2 separate regions of the Homo sapiens genome follow, and region 1 is linked to region 2. The links come from fine-mapping of genetic effects on gene expression. A gene starts in region 2. The other region holds a variant in brackets. All regions are shown on one strand. Distances are from middle to middle.

Region 1 (8,972 bases), 130 kb after region 2:
GAGTTGCTGATCCCTTTATTGATGGGTTTTTTTTTGTTTTTTGTTTTTTGTTTTGAAACAGAGTTTCACTCTTGTTGTCTAGGCTAGAGTGTGATGGTGTGATCTCGGCTCACTGCAACCTCCACCTCCTGGGTTCAAGTGATTCTCCTGCCTCAGCCTCCGGGGTAGCTGGGATTACAGGCATGCACCACCATGCCCTGCTAATTTTGTATTTTTAGTAGAGATAGGGTTTCTCCATGTTGGTCAGGCTGGTCTTGAACTCCCGACCTCAGGTGATCCACCCACCTCGGCCTCCCAAAGTGCTGGGGTTACAGGCATGAGCCACCGCACCCGGCTCCTTTATAGATGTTTTTAAAGAAAAAGACCTAAACTTGATCAGAACTAATGATGAGCTGGCATAAACATAGAGTCTGCTTGTTTCTCTCTCTTTAGTATAGGAAATCATAGCAGTACAGATTGTGAACCTTACTTTTTGGTACACAGTTTTCATGTGCTGTAACAGAGTCTCAACATGTGTAAGGTCTGTTTAATTATTTAGCACTTTAGGGCTGGGCGCGGTGGCTCACGCCTGTAATCCCAGCACTTTGGGAGGCCAAGGCGGGTGGATCACCTGAAGTCAGGAGTTCATGACCAGCCTGACCAACATGGAGAAACCCTGTCTCTACTAAAAATATGAAATTAGCCCGGTGTGGTGGTGCACATCTGTAATCCCAGCTACTCGGGAGACTGAGGCAGGAGAATTGCTTGACCCCAGAAGGCAGAGGTTGTGGTGAGCCAAGATTGTGCCATTGCACTCTAGCCTGGGCAACAAGAGCGAAACTCTGTCTCAAAAAAAAAAATTTAGCACTTTATATATAAACTGTGAGTTTCACTTTAGTAACACCTCACTATTCATTGTCACAATAAAGATATGGAATTGCAAACTAAATAGATGAATACTAAGTTGAATATATGCTTGTAATTATAAGAGAGGGTGTATTCAAATCTTCACTACTTCAACCTGTGTTGAAGGACTGCATTGCCAAACAAAATATTAGGTTCTCATAAAATAATTTTTTTGAGGTTTCTCCCTAAAAAAAACATAAAGCATAAATCTCAAAATCAGTCTCAGAATAGTCTTACTTGAAAACTAAGGCACTAAAAATATATTATATAATTATAATTTAAAATTAATGGTGCCTATTTTAATAAAGATGAAGAATAAGAAAATGAAGCCATTACATACAAGGGAGTACTGGGTTTGTAGAAGACTGAAAAACAGGAATTTGACACAAAAGAAGTAAATTCAAACTGGCAAAACTAGATTGTGCTTGACAACAAAGATTACTTAGTTCTAGGCTATGGAATCTCAAGTTGAATTTCTAAAATTTCTGAAATATTAATTGACCCCTTCTTTGGACATAAGAAGAGAGTTTGGGCTGGGTGTCGTGGCTCACACCTGCATTCCTAGCACTTTGGGAGGCCAAGGTGGGAGGACTTCTTGAGTGTAGGAGTTCGAGACCAGCCTGGGCAACATGGCCAGACCCTGTCTCTACAAAAAAATACAAAAATTAGCTGGGCATGGTGCATGCCTGTACTCCCTGCTATGCGGGAGGCTGAGGTGGGAGAATCGATTGGAGCCTGGGAGGTTGAGGCTGCAATGAGCAGTGATCGTGCCACTGCACTCCCGCCTGGGTGACGGATTGACTCCCTGTCTCAAAATTTTCTTTTGCATTTTAAAAAATAAGGAGAGAGTTTGGATTTCTGAGCATTTATTTCACATGTAGAATCCTATAAGATAGTAAAATTCAAGGCCAGGCATGGTGGCTCACACTTGTAATCCCAGCACTTTGGGAGGCGGAGGTGGGAGGATCACTTGAGGCCAGGAATTTGAGACCGGCCTGGGCAACAAAGTGAGACCCCATCTCAACAACAAAAAAAAATTTTTAATTAGCCAGGATTGGTGGCATGAACCAGTGGTCGCAGCTACTTAGGAAGCTGACGGGGGAGGATCGCTTGAGCCCAGGAGTTTGAGGCTGCAGTGAGCTATGATTGTGCCACTGCACTCCAGCCTGAGCAACAGAGCATGACCCTGTCTCTTAAAAAACAAAGTAAAACTTAATCTTTTACTCAAGTCTCTATGCTAGTGAGCCTGTATTTGTTTCTTGGTAAGATAAATGCTCATTATAATGTAAACATGAAAGAAATCAAAGAGTTGAAGAGATGAGGAGAAATAATAGGTGTTTGGAAATATTCGGAAATTAGGCAGGCCAAAGGCTGCATAGTCATTAAAATAAAAAGTTAAAAGTAAGACATACATGGCAAGGATAGGAGAAAAATTAATTACAAGAAGAATAAAGAGACTGAGTCTCTTTGCTCCAATGAAGTGGAAATTAAGTATTAGCCACTGTGATAACAGAAATAGAAAACTGACAGCCAAGGAGAAGTGAAGAGGTAGCTGCAGTGGCTGTTGTCACAGCTAAGCCCCCATGTCTCAGTAGCATGACATGGTAGGAGGTTATTTCTTTTTATCTTAAATTTCAAGAACGGGACCGGCTGCGGTGGCTTATGCTTGTAATCCCAGCACTTTGGGAGGCCAAGGCGGGCAGATCACCTGAGGTCAGGAGTTTGAGACCAGCCTGACCAACGTGGAGAAACCCCATCTGTACTAAAAATAGAAAACTAGCCGGGCGTGGTGGCACATGCCTGTAATCCCAGCCACTTGGGAGGCTGAGGTAGGAGAATTGCTTGAATCCAGATGGCAGAGGTTGCAGTGAGCCAAGATTGCGCCATTGCACTCCATCCTGGGCAACGAGAGTGAAACTCCATCTCAAAAAAAAAATTTTTTTTCAAGAACGGTTTTTCTATTTGGATGCCTTTCCTCTTGAGCAGCAGTTCCGGGATCCAGGCACCCTCCATCTTGTGCTTTGCCACCTTCAACCCAAGCCTTCCAAGAATGTAGAAGGAATATGAGAATCACTTGTGGGAGGAGCTTGGCCTGGAAGCAGCACAGATCATTTCATTCATTGTTTATAACATAGTCACATGCCTTGCCTAACTGCAACTAAGACTGGAAAATATACTTCAGCTGTGGGCCCAGAAAGAGGAAACAGGTTTTGACCAACACGTAGCAGTCTGTGTCACAATGTCTCTTGAAAAGGACTGTAGCTGCCTATTAATAAGTGAGACTAAACAGAGTATAAATGGGGAATTAAAATGGAAAGCACTGCTAATTTGAGAAGTCGATAGTTGACATTTTTCTGTGGCAGAAAATGATGTGGGTCCGTCATCACGTTTCCTTTAAAGCAGTAGTTCTTAACTGGGACATTTACTCCTCTCTCCCTTGGGAGACATTTGGCATTGTCTGAAGACATTTTTGGTTTTTACAACTTGGTAAACGGTGCCACTGGTATTTAGTGGGTATAGAAGGCAAGGATGTTGCAAAACACCGTATATCGCACAGGACAAAGAATGATCTGAGCCAAAATGTTGATGGTAAAAGATTGAGAAACCATTCTTTAAAGGAAGAAAGAGAATGTTTTCTAGAAATACATTATCTTCTTAATATCAAATTGAATATAAAATGACATCTAAAGACAATTTTCGACATTTCAGGACAGAGCCCCCACATAAAATCAAATCTACTCTCAGGAAGCCTTCAGAGCCTGTGGCGGGCAGTGACTGGCCCTCTCTTTGATTTTCAAGGAGACCCAGCTCAGCAAGGTGGAACCCTCATTTTAGGTCCAGGTAAGCATCAAAGCCCAGGTTCAGCAGTAGACGTCTTGTGCTTTTTACAAGTTCAGAGGCCGCCATTTTCTTTTCTTTTCCTTTTTTTTTTTTTTCGAGAGGGAGTCTCGCTCTGTCGCCAAGGCTGGAGTGCAGTGGCGCAATCTCGGCTCACTGCAAGCTCTGCCTCCCGGGTTCACGCCATTCTCCTGCCTCAGCCTCCCGAGTAGCTGGGACTACAGGTGCCCGCCACGACGCCCGGCTAATTTTTTAAATTTTTAGTAGAGACGGGGTTTCACCGTGTTAGCCAGGATGGTCTCGGTCTCCTGACCTCGTGATCCACCCACCTCGGCCTCCCAAAGTGTTGGGATTACAGGCATGAGCCACCGCGCCCCACCCAGAGGCCACCATTTTCTTCATAAAGCAGACACCCTGTACAAATGGACATCTTGGCATTACAGCCAGGATGCTGTGCTTTTGTAGGGGGGCATCTTTTGTTTTCAAAGGCTTCTGTATATTTTGATGTTTATGTATTTGATGAGCGTGCCCATCATCCCATGCCTAGATGATTTCCCACAGTCACCTGTGGGCTGGCGATCTGTATATGGCTGTCACACACTCCGCTATTTAGGAATGTTCAGTGGAGATGAACATTTCTGAATAGGGGAAAATCGTCACGTGCCTTTTTTTTCAAGAAAAGAATCCAGCCGGGCGCGGTGGTTTACGCCTGTAATCCCAGCACTTTGGGAGGCCAAGGCGGGCGGATCACGAGGTCAGGAGATCAAGACCATCCTGGCTAACACGGTGAAACCCCGTCTCTACTAAAAATACAAAAAAAAATTAGCCGGACGTGGTGGCGGGTGCCTGTAGTCCCAGCTACTCGGGAGGCTGAGGCAGGAGACTGGCGTGAACCTGGGAGGCGGAGCTTGCAGTGCGCCGAGATCGCACCACTGAACTCCAGCCCTCCAGCCTGGGTGAGAGAGTGAGACTCTGCCTCAAAAAAAAAAAAAAAAAAAAAAAAAAAAAAAAAAAGAATCCATGTAGTTATTTATACCTAACAAAACTAGGAGACTTACTCAGTGTCAGCAAGTTAGTCAGTGCTAGGGACAGCTCATCCCATAAGATTGGGATTGAGGCCGGGCATGGTGGCTCACACCTATAATCCCAGCATTTTGGGAGGCTGAGACTGGTGGATCACTTGAGGCCAGGAGTTCCAGACCAGCCCTTGGTGAAACCCCATCTCTACTAAAAGTACAAAAAATTAGCCGGGCGTGGTGGTGCATGCTTGTAATCCCACCTACTTGGGAGGCTAAGGCAGGAGAATCACTTGAACCTGGGAGGCGGAGGTTGCAGTGAGCCCAGATCGTGCCACTGCACTCCAGCCTGGGTGACAAGAAGGAAACTCCCTCTCAAAAAATAAAAAAGAATGGGATTGAGGTCCGACT[A/G]TAAGCCACACACTGTTAACTTTATTGATGGGTGTGGACCACCTGAGATTGCTTTGGCTCGTCTCTGCTAAGTGTTTGAACAGATGTATTTGAACAGATGTAGGGATTGTGGACATCTAAGTGTATTGTAACTGATTAGATCTCTACTGTGTTCCAGCATTGCAACAAAGGACAAACACCCTTATCAGACAGGGCCCAAAAGCCTAAATCACTATGTTGTAAGACCATCTTTTTGTTTTTTCTTCCTCTTTAAAACTGTCTGCTTAATGAGCATAGCTTATAAGAGTTATATGAGTAATATTTACTTTGATAAATACCTTTTTTTTTTTTTTTTTTTGAGACAGAGCCTTGCTCTGTCACCAGGCTGGAGTGCAGTGGTGTAATCTCGGCTCACTACAACCTCCGCCTCCCGGGATCAAGCGATTTTCCTGCCTCAGTCTCCCTAGTAGCTGGGACTACAGGCGCCTGCCACCACACCCAGCTAATTTTTGTATTTTTAGTAGAGGCAAGGTTTCACCAGGTTGGCCAGAATGGTCTCAATTACTTGACTTCGTGATCTGCCCACCTCTGCCTCCCAAAGTGCTGGGATTACAGGTGTGAGCCACCACACCCAGCCAATACCATATTTTTTAGAAGGAGGGTTTTGACTGAGTAATATGATTTTTGGGCTTTTTGCAGCTGGAACATTGTAGCCAAAATCTCCCTTTGCCTCCCTCTCATGAATTTATAACAGATTCGTTATAAAAAGAAGCCCTGATGAATGAGAATGAATCCTATGCATTAGCCCAGAATGACATTAGCCATATTTCTGAACAACTTATTTCCATCCTCATACCCAAAAGGGGATGTTTTTGAGTCCCTTATCTCCATGTCTCTGAATCATTTGTCCACATCTTCTGTTGTGTAAGAATAAAGAGTACATGGGCTGGGCGCAGTGGCTCACACCTGTAATCCCAACACTTTGGGAGCCCAAGGTGAGCAGATCACAAGGTCGGGAGATCGAGACAATCCTGACTAACACGGTGAAACCCCATCTCTACTAAAAATATAAAAAATTAGCCGGGTATGGTGGCATGCACCTGTAGTTCCAGCTACTAGGGAGGCTGAGGCAGGATAATCGCTTGAACCTGGGAAGTGGAGGTTGGCAGTGAGCCAAAATCACACCACTGCACTACAGCCTGGGCGAGAGACCAAGACACTGCCCCCAAAAATAAATAAGTAAAGAAGAAAGAGCACATGGAGAGCATCATTTGTGTGCCAACTTGGGACCATTCAGTCATCCCTCAGCATCCATGGCGGATTGGTTCCTGGACCTGCAGTGGATCCCAGAATCTGAGATGCTCAAGTGTCTCACATAAAATGCTGTAGTATTTGGATCTAACCTATGCACGTCCTCCCCTGCACTTTAAATCATCTCTAGTTTACTTATAATACCAAATGCAATGTAAATAGTTGTTGTACTGTACTATTTAGGGAATAATGACCAGGAAAAAAAAATGTCTGTACATATTCAGCAGATATGCAGCTATCCTTTTTTTCTGAATATTTTCAATCCGTGGTTTGTTGAATGAGGATGCGGAACTCATGGATGCAGAAGACCAGCTGTGCTTAGAAAACATGCCTCATGGCCGGGTGCAGTGGCTTACACCTGTAATCCCAGCACTTTGGGAGGCCGAGGTGGGCGGATCACAAGATCAGGAGATCAAGACCATCCTGGCCATCTGGTGAAACCCCGTCTCTACTCAAAATACAAAAATTAGCTGGGCGTGGTGGTGCAAGCCTGTAGTCCCAGCTACTCGGGAGGCTGAGGCAAGAGAATCGCTTGAACCCAGAAGGCGGAGGTTGCAGTGAGCCGAGATCATGCCACTGCACTCCAGCCTGGCGACAAAGCGAGCCTCCGTCTCAAAAAAAAAAAAAAAAAATGAAAACGTGCCTCATACACTTAATCTAATGGTTTAAGTTAAAATTCTGGTCTTGAGTTCAAGAATCAAACAGAAACTAGATTGTAAATTTATGATTATAAATTATAAAATCTGTATTTGAACAGATGTAAGGATTGTGAACATCTAAGTGTATTATAACTGATTGTCTTTTAAGGCCTTATTTTAGAGCCTCTTTTGGGCTATGGTTATAATACAGATAGCCTGTTAAATCAGTATTTCGGAGTGGATTTTTTGAAGTGAGTGATTTATTTCCTTATTATATTTATTCTATTATTAGATTTAAGAAACAGATGTGATTTTCCAGCTTGATATCTATGTGAGTTCCGTATTCTGCCCGTCTGACAGGACATTTTATTTAATTATATTTAATAAAACCTAACAGAAGGTTATAATTTAAAAATCTTTCCCCTTGGATCTCATAAAACATCAAGTATGGCTCTTATTTAACCATAATCCTTGTCATACTTTATTACCATGATTTAAAATTATTATGGCATTATATAGAGAATATAATGCACTCCAGGTAATTAATTTTTCCCTTTGGACTAATTAAAGGTTGAAAAGCTTCCTTGATTTTAGTAAGCAGTAAATCTGATGAATAATACTATGCCTCAGCCTTTTATTCTTATTCTCTTCTAGGTAACAACATCCATTTTATACACCGCGATAGGAATAGGTTGGATCACAAACCTATCAACTCTGTTTTACAGCTTGTAGGAGTTCAGCATGTGAACTTTACAAACAGACCTTCAGTTATCCATGTGTGACTTAAAATGCACTCAGTCACTTTCAACTGGACCTTCTGGAATGTGACCTTCAATGCCTGGGTGTAATATCCTCGTGCAGTGTCTAACCTGCTGTCCCTTCCCAGCCTTTGAGGAGTTAGGGAAGCATAAAGGGGGCTTGAACCTGTTGAATTGCATGCTGGGAAGCATCAGTTGTCAAAATATGTTATATACTTCCATTTTATAACTTTTAACATTTTATACAAAAAAAATGAATATACAAAATATAACTTTAAAAGCTATAAAATCATAAATACTCTAAATTATTTTACATTATGGTATATTCAGTCAATGAAAGAGTTTTTTGGCAATATAAATTCTGACAGTATATAAGGGGACAGGAGAACAACACAAGACCATTATATTCAGTGAAGAAGGCAAAATATCAAATCTGTCAACAATGTAACTGCATTTTTATATGTATATATTTGTATTTTTGTATGCTTTGGAAAAAGACAGGAAATAAACACCAAAATGTTGCCAGTAGGTATCTCTGTGTTAAGATTAGTGTTATTATTTTCTTTTCTGTACTTTTCTGTATTTCCCAACTGTTATATAATGAGCATGATTAATATTGTAGGGCCAGGAAAAGGTCTTTAAACATTATAGGACAATTTTATGCCACATAACAACCTTCACAAAAGAGCAAAATTATATAAGCTGTAGTCCACTTTTCCATCGTAATTGCTTTACTCAGAGGAAGTGTGGCAATCCGAACATTTCACATATAGCCAGTGTCCACAGCACCTTCTCAAACTACATACTTGCTATCCGTTTCACTAGGATTTTGGGGGGTTGGGGGAGCTATGGAGAAAAAAATTGTTTTAGATATTTAAGATATGTATTTAAAAATATGGTCAGTGTGCTTTTTGAAAGGGAACTATAAGAATTTTTTTTTTTTTTTTTTTTGAGATGGAGTCTCACTCTGTTGCCCAGGCTGGAGTGCAGTGGCATGATCTCGGCTCACTGCAAGTTCCGCCTCCCGGGTTCACGCCATTCTCCTGCCTCAGCCTCCCGAGTAGCTGGGACTACAGGCACCCACCACCACGCCCGGCTAATTTTTTGTATTTTTATTAGAGACGGGGTTTCACTGT
Region 2 (8,972 bases):
AGCCTGCTGAAATGATTCAAACTAGCCAGTCCTAAGCCTGATTACCATGTCTTGCCCATTCCTTCCCAAATGAACCACGGTAAAGGCTCGTACCGATAGTTCTCTTCTCTCCCTCTGCCTCTTGGCTGATTTTGGTGCTTCCCTGTGTGGACCCCATGGTGTGGTATACCCCTTTTTCTTTCCAGTGGCTGTTGTGTCCTAATCTATTGGCCTTACTATATCTCAAATTTTCCATTAATACACTGTATTTTAAAACATCACTAATCATTAAGAAAATGCAAATCAAAGCCACAAGACACAACTTTGCACCCATTAGAAAAGCTGTCATAAAAGTTCATTATAAACAGAAAATAAGTTGATGAAGATGTGTAGAAATTGGAACTGTTTTGCACTGCTGGTGGGAAGGTAAAATGGTGTAGCCATTGTGATAAACAGTACAGTGTTTTCTCAAAAAATTAATAGAATTACCACAAGATCCAGCAATGCCACTTCTAGGTATATACCAGAAATAACTGAAAGCAGCATGATATGGTTAGGCTTTGTGTCCCCACCCAAATCTCATCTTGAATTGTAATCCCCAGGTGTTGAGGGAGATACCTGGTGGCAAGTGATTGAACTATGGGGGAGGTTTCCCCCATGCTGTTCTTGTGATAGTGAGTATTCTCAGGAGATCTGATGGTCTTATAAATGATAGCTTTTCCTGTGCTCTTCTCTCTCCTGCCGCCATATGAATAAGGTCCTTGCTTCCCCCTCACCTTCCACCATGATTGTTCCTGAGGCCTCCTAGCCATGTGGAACTGTGAGCCAAATAAACCTCTTTCCTCTGTAAATTACCCAGTCTTGGGTATTTCTTTATAGCAGTCTAAAGACAGACTAATACACAGGGACTCAAACAAATATTTTTACGCCAATGTTCATGATAGCATTACTAATAATAGCCAAAAATGGAAATGACCCAAATGTTCACTGACAGATGAATGGATAAACAAAATATGATGTATACATATAATGGAATATTATTCAGCCTTCAAACAAAATGAAATTCCAATATATGTAACAACATGGATGAACCTTCAGGACATTTGCTAAGTGAAATAAGCTAGACACAAAATGACAAATATTTTATGATTCCTCTTAAATGAGGTACCTACAATTCATAATGAAAGTAAGTAGAATAGTGGTTACAGAGGTGCTAGGAGAGGCAGGAGTGGAGAGTTGTTGAGTGAGTGTGAAGTTTCAGTTTGGGGTGATGAAAGGCTCTGGGGACAGAAAGTGTTAACAGTTGCACAACAATGTGAATAGGCTTTTTACCACTGAATTGTACACTCAAAAGTGTTTAAAATTGTAAGCTTTATGTTTTGTGTATTTTACAAGAAAAAAATTTTTAATCAATGAATGTAATTCACAATATTGACAGACTAAATAAAAATAGCCATATGATCATATCAATAGATGCAGGACCATATCAATAGATGCAGGACAGGTATCTGACACAATTCAACATATATTTGTTGTAAAATCTCTTAGCTAATTAAGAATAGAAGAAACTTCTAATGTAGGGTATTTACAAAAACTTTTAGCTAACATCACACTTAATGATCTGAATAAGGCAACTGCTATGGTTTTAATGTTTGTCCCCCTCCATAATTCAAATGAAAAGTTAATTGCCATTGTAACAGTTTTAAGAGAGATTGCTATGCATTTTCAACTTTAAGAGATGATTAGGCCACGAGGGCGTCACCTTCATGGGTAGGATTGGTGCTATTATAAAAGGGCAAGTTTGGCCCTCTCTTGCCCCTTTCTCTCTTCTGCCATGTGAGGAAGAGCATTCTGTTCCTCACCTCACCCCATCCCCCAAGGATGCAGCATTCAAGATGCCGTCTTGGAAAACAGATTAAGATAACAATGCTCTCTCAGTACTCCTATTCAACATCATCCTACAAGTCTTGGCCAGTGAAATAAAGGAACAAAAAGAAAGAAAAGTCATACAGTCTGAAAAGGAAGAAACAAATGGTCACTATTTGCAGACAAAATGACTATATATGTAGAACATTTCAAACAATATACCAAAAAAACTTATTTAATTAATAAGCAAGTTTAGCACGTTTTCAGGATAAATGTCAATATACAAAAGTCATCTTATCCCTGTATACCAACAGTGAACAACTGGAATGTGACATTTTAAAAAAATCTATTTAAAACAGAAGAAAGGAAGAAAGAAGGAAAAAAGAAAGGTACACCTCTGTACAAATGTATCAAAATGTGTGCAGGATCTATATATATATATATATATATATATATATATATATATACTGAAAACTACAAAACACAGCTGAAAGGAAAGAAAGATTCACGTAAAATATCCCATTTTCTTTTTTTTTCTTTTTTTTTTTTTTTGAGGTGGAGTCTTGCTCTGTTGCCCTGGCTAGGGTACAGTGGCCCGATCTTGGCTCACTGCAACCTCCACCTCCTGGGTTCAAGCAATTCTCCTGCCTCAGCCTCCTGAGTAGCTGAGATTACAGGCACGTGCCACAATGCCCGGCTATTTTTTGTATTTTTAGTAGAGATGGGGTTTCACCATGTTGGCCAGGCTGGTCTTAAACTCTTGACCTCAAGTGATCTGCCTGCCTCAGCCTCGCAAAGTGCTGGGATTACAGGTGTGAACGACTCCACCCAAAGTACACCAATTTCACTCATTGAGAGACTCAATATTGTTAAGATGCCAGCTCTCCCAAATCTCAGCAATCTTTTTGTAGATGTCAACAGGCTGATTCTAAAATTTCCATGGAAAGGCAAAGAAACTAGAATAGCCAAAATAATTCTTAAAAAGAAAAAATTGGAGAATTTACATTATGAGATTTCAAGGCTTTCTATAAAATTAGAGTAATCCAAACAATATATCTGCAAAAGAATAGACAGACCAGGCAACACAAAGAAGAAAGGATTTTTTAAAGTGAATTGAAATTTTATTTTTATACAAAAACCTGCGTGTGAATCTTACATTACAGGGTTATTCATAATTGTCAAAAACTGGAAACCACCAGCTGCCCTTCAACAGGTGAATGAAGAAACACTACTAAATTAGTGAGTGATACTTTAAGAGAAACATGATGTTTTATAGCCTCAAAATATCTCACTGCAGGCCAGTCATGGTGGCTCGCGTCTGTAGTCCCAGCACTTTGAGAGGCAAAGGTGGGTGGATCGCCTGAGCCCAAGAGTTTGAGACCAACATGGACAAAAACAAAGAAAGAGAAAGAAAAAGGGAAAGGAAGGGAGGGAGGAAGGGAGGGAGGGAGGGAGGAAGGGAGGGAGGGAGGTCCAAAACTTAGCTACTTGGGAAGCTGAGGTGGGAGGATCACTTGAGCCTAGGAAGTCCAGGCTGCAATAAGCCGTGATCGCACCACTTCACTCCAGCCTCGGTGACATAGTGAGACCCGGTCTCAAAAACAAACAAACAAACCAAACCTCACTGCAAATATTTATCAGCTGCGGTGGTGCTGCATCTACACACACAGCGCCGAACTTGGAAGTTGGCGGAGAGCAGCTCTTTGGGCACCAGGCAAGGTCTCAGCCTTCAGACAGATGTGAAGGGCGAGACTTTCCTTGGAAAGGAATTAAAGGGTTTATCTTTTTAAAACACCTGTTTCTCTTAAAAACTTAAGAAATGTATAATTTAAAAATTTAAAACTTTGATATTATTAATTGCTTATTGTTGAATGAATCCTTGTGAAAATTATTGATTGTAATGTTAGTGCCATGGATATGTCCTTTGTCCCAGCACCTATCTCATTGTCCTAACAAGGTTACTGAAGGTTCTCTTTCCACTGCTTTAAAAGCCAGCTGATACATACTACATTCTTTCTTTTTCATATAGTTGAACTTTTACTGCACCAGGATAAATTTTTAAATATTTAGTGATAGTATACATAGTAAATATAGAGATATTGCTATGCATTTTCAATTCTTTTCTGATCATTACCATAAGTTTTTATTAGAATGAAAATTGGAATAGTTCCTTTAGGAAAACAGGCAAAATATATAAATGTCAAAAAAAGAAAATATATACTTAGAAAACATAGATGATTAGAATTTTTAAAAACAAATGTTAGTCTTTTCCTCCAGTATCTATTAAAGTGTTTTTCAGTGTCAACAGTAAAATTTTATACCTTGATTCATATATACTGCACTAGTTTACTGTTGCCATTAATCTTTTTTCTTGCTAATCAAAACTTATCATTGCCATATAAAATAACCTGTTAGAAAGTATCAACCGTGTGTGTGTGAGTGTATGTGTGTTACTAAAAAGAGTGTCATAAAATACTGTGCTGAGAGGTTCCTAATTTGGTTCCTGATTTCAGAAGCATACCACATAAGATTTAAGCAAGCTCATCTCTAGGAGATGCATAATTTGTGGATAACGGTTTTCTTAGTTGGGATTGTGTGTACTTCAGGTATTATGTAATGCTGAACAGCTTACTTGCTTTTTCTTTTTTTCCCCCCAGAGATAAACTGAGGATCACAAATATTATTCTTTTATGTTAATAATGGTTTCCATTTTCTAGTATTTGTTACATTTTACGGCTTTATTCACAAAGCTGTTTATGTATTTTTGTGGCAGCTCTAAGTTAAAAGGCACACTTGTAACATTACAGTCCCAATTTTCCCTTTATCAACTTTATATTATAAAATTTTCCAACACATAGTCAATAAGCATGTCCATATTCTAGAAGTAGATATTCTTAACATTTTGCCATACTTCCCATTTCTAATTATTTTTTAAAAAGAACTTACAAACGGGCCGGGAGTGGTAGCTCACGCCTGTATACCCAGCACTTTGGGAGGCCAAGGCAGGCGGATCACTTGAGGTGAGGAGTTCGAGACCAGCCTGGCCAACATGGTGAAACCCCGTCTCTACTAAAAATACAAAAATTAGCTGGGCGTAGTGGCGGGCGCCTGTAGTCCCAGCTACTTGGGAGGCTGAGGCAGGAGAATCGCTTGAACCCGGGAGGCGGAGGTTGCAGTTAGCCGAGATCGCGCCACTGCACTCCAGCCTGGGCGACAGAGTAAGACTCCGTCTCAAAAAAAAAAAAAAAAACCAAAAAACCCAAAAACTTACAAACATAATACAATCCTAAATACTTACATAGACATCTCTTTATGAATAAGCAAGATTACCTACATAATCCCAATGCTGCCACAATTAATTAATAATTCTAATTTCCAGTCCGTATACAAATTTTCCCAATTGTTTTCAAACGTCTTCCGCGGCTCTTGCTTTCTGTAACCACACGCTGCATTTGCTGTTATGTCATCAAGTCTAACCCACAACCTCTGGGGCTCTGACAGAACCCGGGCTCCAGTTATCAGGACGGTCCATGTTATTACGCCATAAATCTTGGGGGAAAAACAAACAAAAAAACACTGACAGCTGGCGCCGTACTGCATGTGAAACGTAGTCTTGCATGTTATGGGTTACCGCGCAGCATGCTGGGAACGGATATGCGCGTTTTCGTCTGCGCATGTGCAGTCAACCCCACTTTCCGGCTTCTCCCTGTTAGTGTTTGCTGGTGCAGAGGGTTCGCAGCTCAGGTGAGAGCGCCGGGCCTCCACGCGGATTGCGGACCTGCAGGGAGGGATGTGCTAGTGTCCAGGGGGCGGGAACGCGACGTCCCGGGAACTCCCCCAAAGCAGGCCGTCGCTCCCTGTGCCTCGGCCGGCCCGGGACCTCAGCCTGAGAAGGGCCGGTGGGGGCGGGCTCCGGGGGCGTTAGGTGGGGCTGAGTCCTAGTTGGAAGATGCTCGGTGCGGGCCGAGGTATGGGCGCCAGAATGCAGCCAGGCGTCGGAAAACGCGGTGCTGGCTTCAGGAGGGGAATGCGCGTTTATTGTATTGACCATGAACCTGCCACAAAGCGCGTACAGCCCGTGGGTCTGCGGTGAGAGGCCGAGCCTAGGAGCTAGAAGGACCTCGTGAATTTTGGCTCTGTCACTTGAGCGTTTGAAAATGAGGATATTAGTAAAAACTGCTTTGTGTCGTTCAGAGGTAAGCCATCCCCTGTAAAGCATTTAGCTAAGCGCTAGTTACTAAGCAGCATGTAAATGTTGATTCCCGTTATATTTGGAAGACACTTTGTTCTTTTCATGTAGTATTTCGTTTAATTCTCACAACCACCCTATTTATATCATTAAAAATGAAGAAGGAGGAGTGAAAAGATAGAGCCAAGCTCACAAAGGATGAGAGAGCTAGGATGTCAATACATAAACACTTTACTCCCCGAATCAGGCTGTTTGTAATGGCCTACCTACCTAACCCAGCATTGCAGCCTTCACAGCACTGAGTGATTGTCCCCAAAACCCCAGGACAATGATTGTGAAGTCAGTGTGGACAGAATCTTACTATGTGGCAAGTGTATTTGTTGTGGGGTTTCTGGGATGTCTCCAGAGCCTCTGGGTTAGACTGAGGCCCCTGCCACCTCCTGTGCTGTCCCTCCTGTCTCTGTCTTTAGAAGTCAGTCTGATATTCTAGGGCAGTGAAGATGAGTCACATACGTAATTTTAAATGTTAAACTAGTAGCTACATGAAAATCTAAAACATGAAATTAATTTTAAGAACATACTGTGGTTTTCTCAGTGTATCCAAAATGTTATTTCAACATGTGGTCCTAGCCACATTTCCAGTGCTCAGTAGTTGATGTGATTGGAGGCTGTAGTCATGGATAGCAGGGTTCTAATTAATGCCAAGAGAATCAGGTTTAAGGCCTTAGGTCACTTCTTCACCAGGAGGATTTTGCTCCCTAGGGAACTTTGGAAATGTTGGAGACTTTTTTGGTGGGGGGAGAGGGGACTGAGTTTCTCTCTGTCGCCCAGGCTGGAGGGCAGTGGTGTGATCTTGGCTCACTGCAACCTCCACCTCCCAGGTTCAACTGATTCTCCTGCCCCAGCCTCCCAGCTTGTAATCTCAGCTGGAATTACAAGCATGCATGGCCATGCCCAGCTAATTTTTTGTATTTTTAGTAGAGGTGGGGTTTCACCATATTGGCCAGGCTTATCTTGAACTCCTGACCTCAGGTGATCCACCTGCCTTGGCCTCCCACAGTCCTGGGATTACAGGCGTGAGCCACCACGCCCGGCCTGGAGACGTTTCTGATTGTCACAACAGGGAGAAGGGGTGTCCTAGTGTCTAGTGCATGTTTAGAAATGCTCTTAAACATCCTGCAATGCACAGGACCACTCCTTATGTCAGAGGATTATCCAGCCCAAAATGGAAGTTGTGCTGACGTGAAGAACACTGTTTTCCATGAAAGTTTCAACTAAAATAAATTTGTTACCCAGGCATCAGCCCCAGCTTCTCTGGAGCAAAGCAGCTCTTTATGTTGCAGGAAGGAGGGAGCCCCAGGAACAGGAGTCCCACCGAAGAACTGCTCTCTGACAGAACAGAGACCTCCTCACCAGGGCTTCCAAACAGATGCAGAAGAACCCAGAAAGGAGCAGGTCTTGATTTGCCCAACCAGCGGCACTTCTTCATCCCCTTGCCCAGAGAGCACCAGACTTGGTGATGTCGCCACATCCAGAAGCCATCACAGATTGTGTGACACTGAACACTGTGGGCCAACTTGCAGAAGGTGGTAAGCTGGGGTTGAGAGGCGTGGGTGACTGTCAGACTGCACAGGAAAAGCCACATTACTGGAGGGCTTTTCTCCATGGTCTCCAAGGAAGGCATAACCAGCCAGGGCTGAGGAAATTGTCTCTAATCCTCCTCATAGAGCCCCCATTTTCTTCATTCTTGCCTCACTCTTTCCAGATTCTGAGTCACTCTCACACAACATCCATCACATGTAGCATCTAGAAATTTACTAAGGTTGCCTCTATCCTGAACCTGTAGAATCACAAAAATGATAATACAGGAAAGGATTTCTATTTCTGACTCTTAAAACCTTAAAAAGTATTGAACCTAGGATGAACAGTTTGTCCATGGTCACTCAGGACAGAGCTTGGAGCAAAGCACAGTGCTGTTCACTCTGTCACAGGTGAGTCACCAGAAGTGTCTTATCGAAAGTCTTTTGAGAAACTATAAGTTAGAACAAAAATATTTTAAAATAGTCTTTCAGCATCTCCTTTTTTTCAGTTTTGTGTTTTCTATTGGTGTAAATAATATTAACAGAATATTAATGTTAATTCTGTTTAAGTTGTTAGTCAAAGAAGACATACATTTTAAATAAATCAATAGGAAAATAGTCTACAATCGCCTGATGAAAAACAGCAAGGGGCCAGGCCTGGTGGCTCACCCCTGCAATCCCAGCATTTTGGGAGGCCAAGGCGGGCAGATTGCTTGAGGTCAGGAGTTCGAGACCAGCCTAAGCTACATGGTGAAACCCCATTTCTACAAAAAATACAAAAATTAGCTGGGTGTAGTGGTGGGTGCCTTTGGTCCCAGCAACTCAGGAGGCTGAGACGGGAGAATTGCATGAACCCAGGAGGCAGAAGTTGCAGTGAACTGAGATCACACCGCTGCACTCCAGCCTGGGCAACAGAGCCAGATCCTGTCTCAAAAAAAAAAAACAAAAAAACACACACACACAGCAAGGGTTCATCCACATGATCATATTAAAGATGCACATATTCAGGAGGTGCTTTCTCTGTAGTGCTGCTTGTCCCTTCTCAAAGGTCAAAGGAACATTTTTTGTAGAGAGGCCTTTTTCCCCAGCTGGTGTGATGACATTGGTAGGCAGGTAAGATGGAGGCTGCCCAGATCTCTCATGACTCCTTCCTCACCCCCAGGTTATCCTTTACGGTTCTCCACACTCTTTCAGGAGCAGCAGAAAATGAACATATCTCAGGTGAGTTAATTACTAATACCTTTTTCATCATGGATTTCATAGGTGTTTAAGGGTCCACATATTAATATGGAAATGTAGAAATGGATCAAAATCATTCAAGGAATATATAGAAAAGCAGGGCAGTAGCACAGCAGAAT

Evidence for each region. PIP is the estimated chance that this variant, and not a neighbour inherited with it, causes the effect. A credible set is the group of variants that fine-mapping cannot tell apart.
Region 1: its variant is the best candidate, but not a certain one, in a credible set for the expression of ZNF510 in lymphoblastoid cells (GEUVADIS, PIP 0.87).

What each region holds. Positions count from the first base shown.
Region 1 is chr9:96,640,647-96,649,618 of GRCh38, reverse strand. It overlaps PRXL2C (peroxiredoxin like 2C), which reads left to right. Exons shown (of 6, transcript NM_153698.2): 5 at 3,595-3,726; 6 at 7,733-8,972. The coding sequence ends at 7,860. Among named protein-coding and RNA genes, the nearest start is that of PRXL2C, 10 kb to the left of the region's middle. The variant A/G (reference allele first, on the strand shown) is at 5,151.
Region 2 is chr9:96,774,651-96,783,622 of GRCh38, reverse strand. It overlaps ZNF510 (zinc finger protein 510), which reads left to right and starts at 5,536. Exons shown (of 6, transcript NM_014930.3): 1 at 5,536-5,589; 2 at 7,378-7,623; 3 at 8,777-8,835. The coding sequence starts at 7,554. RefSeq lists a silencer at 5,676-5,775.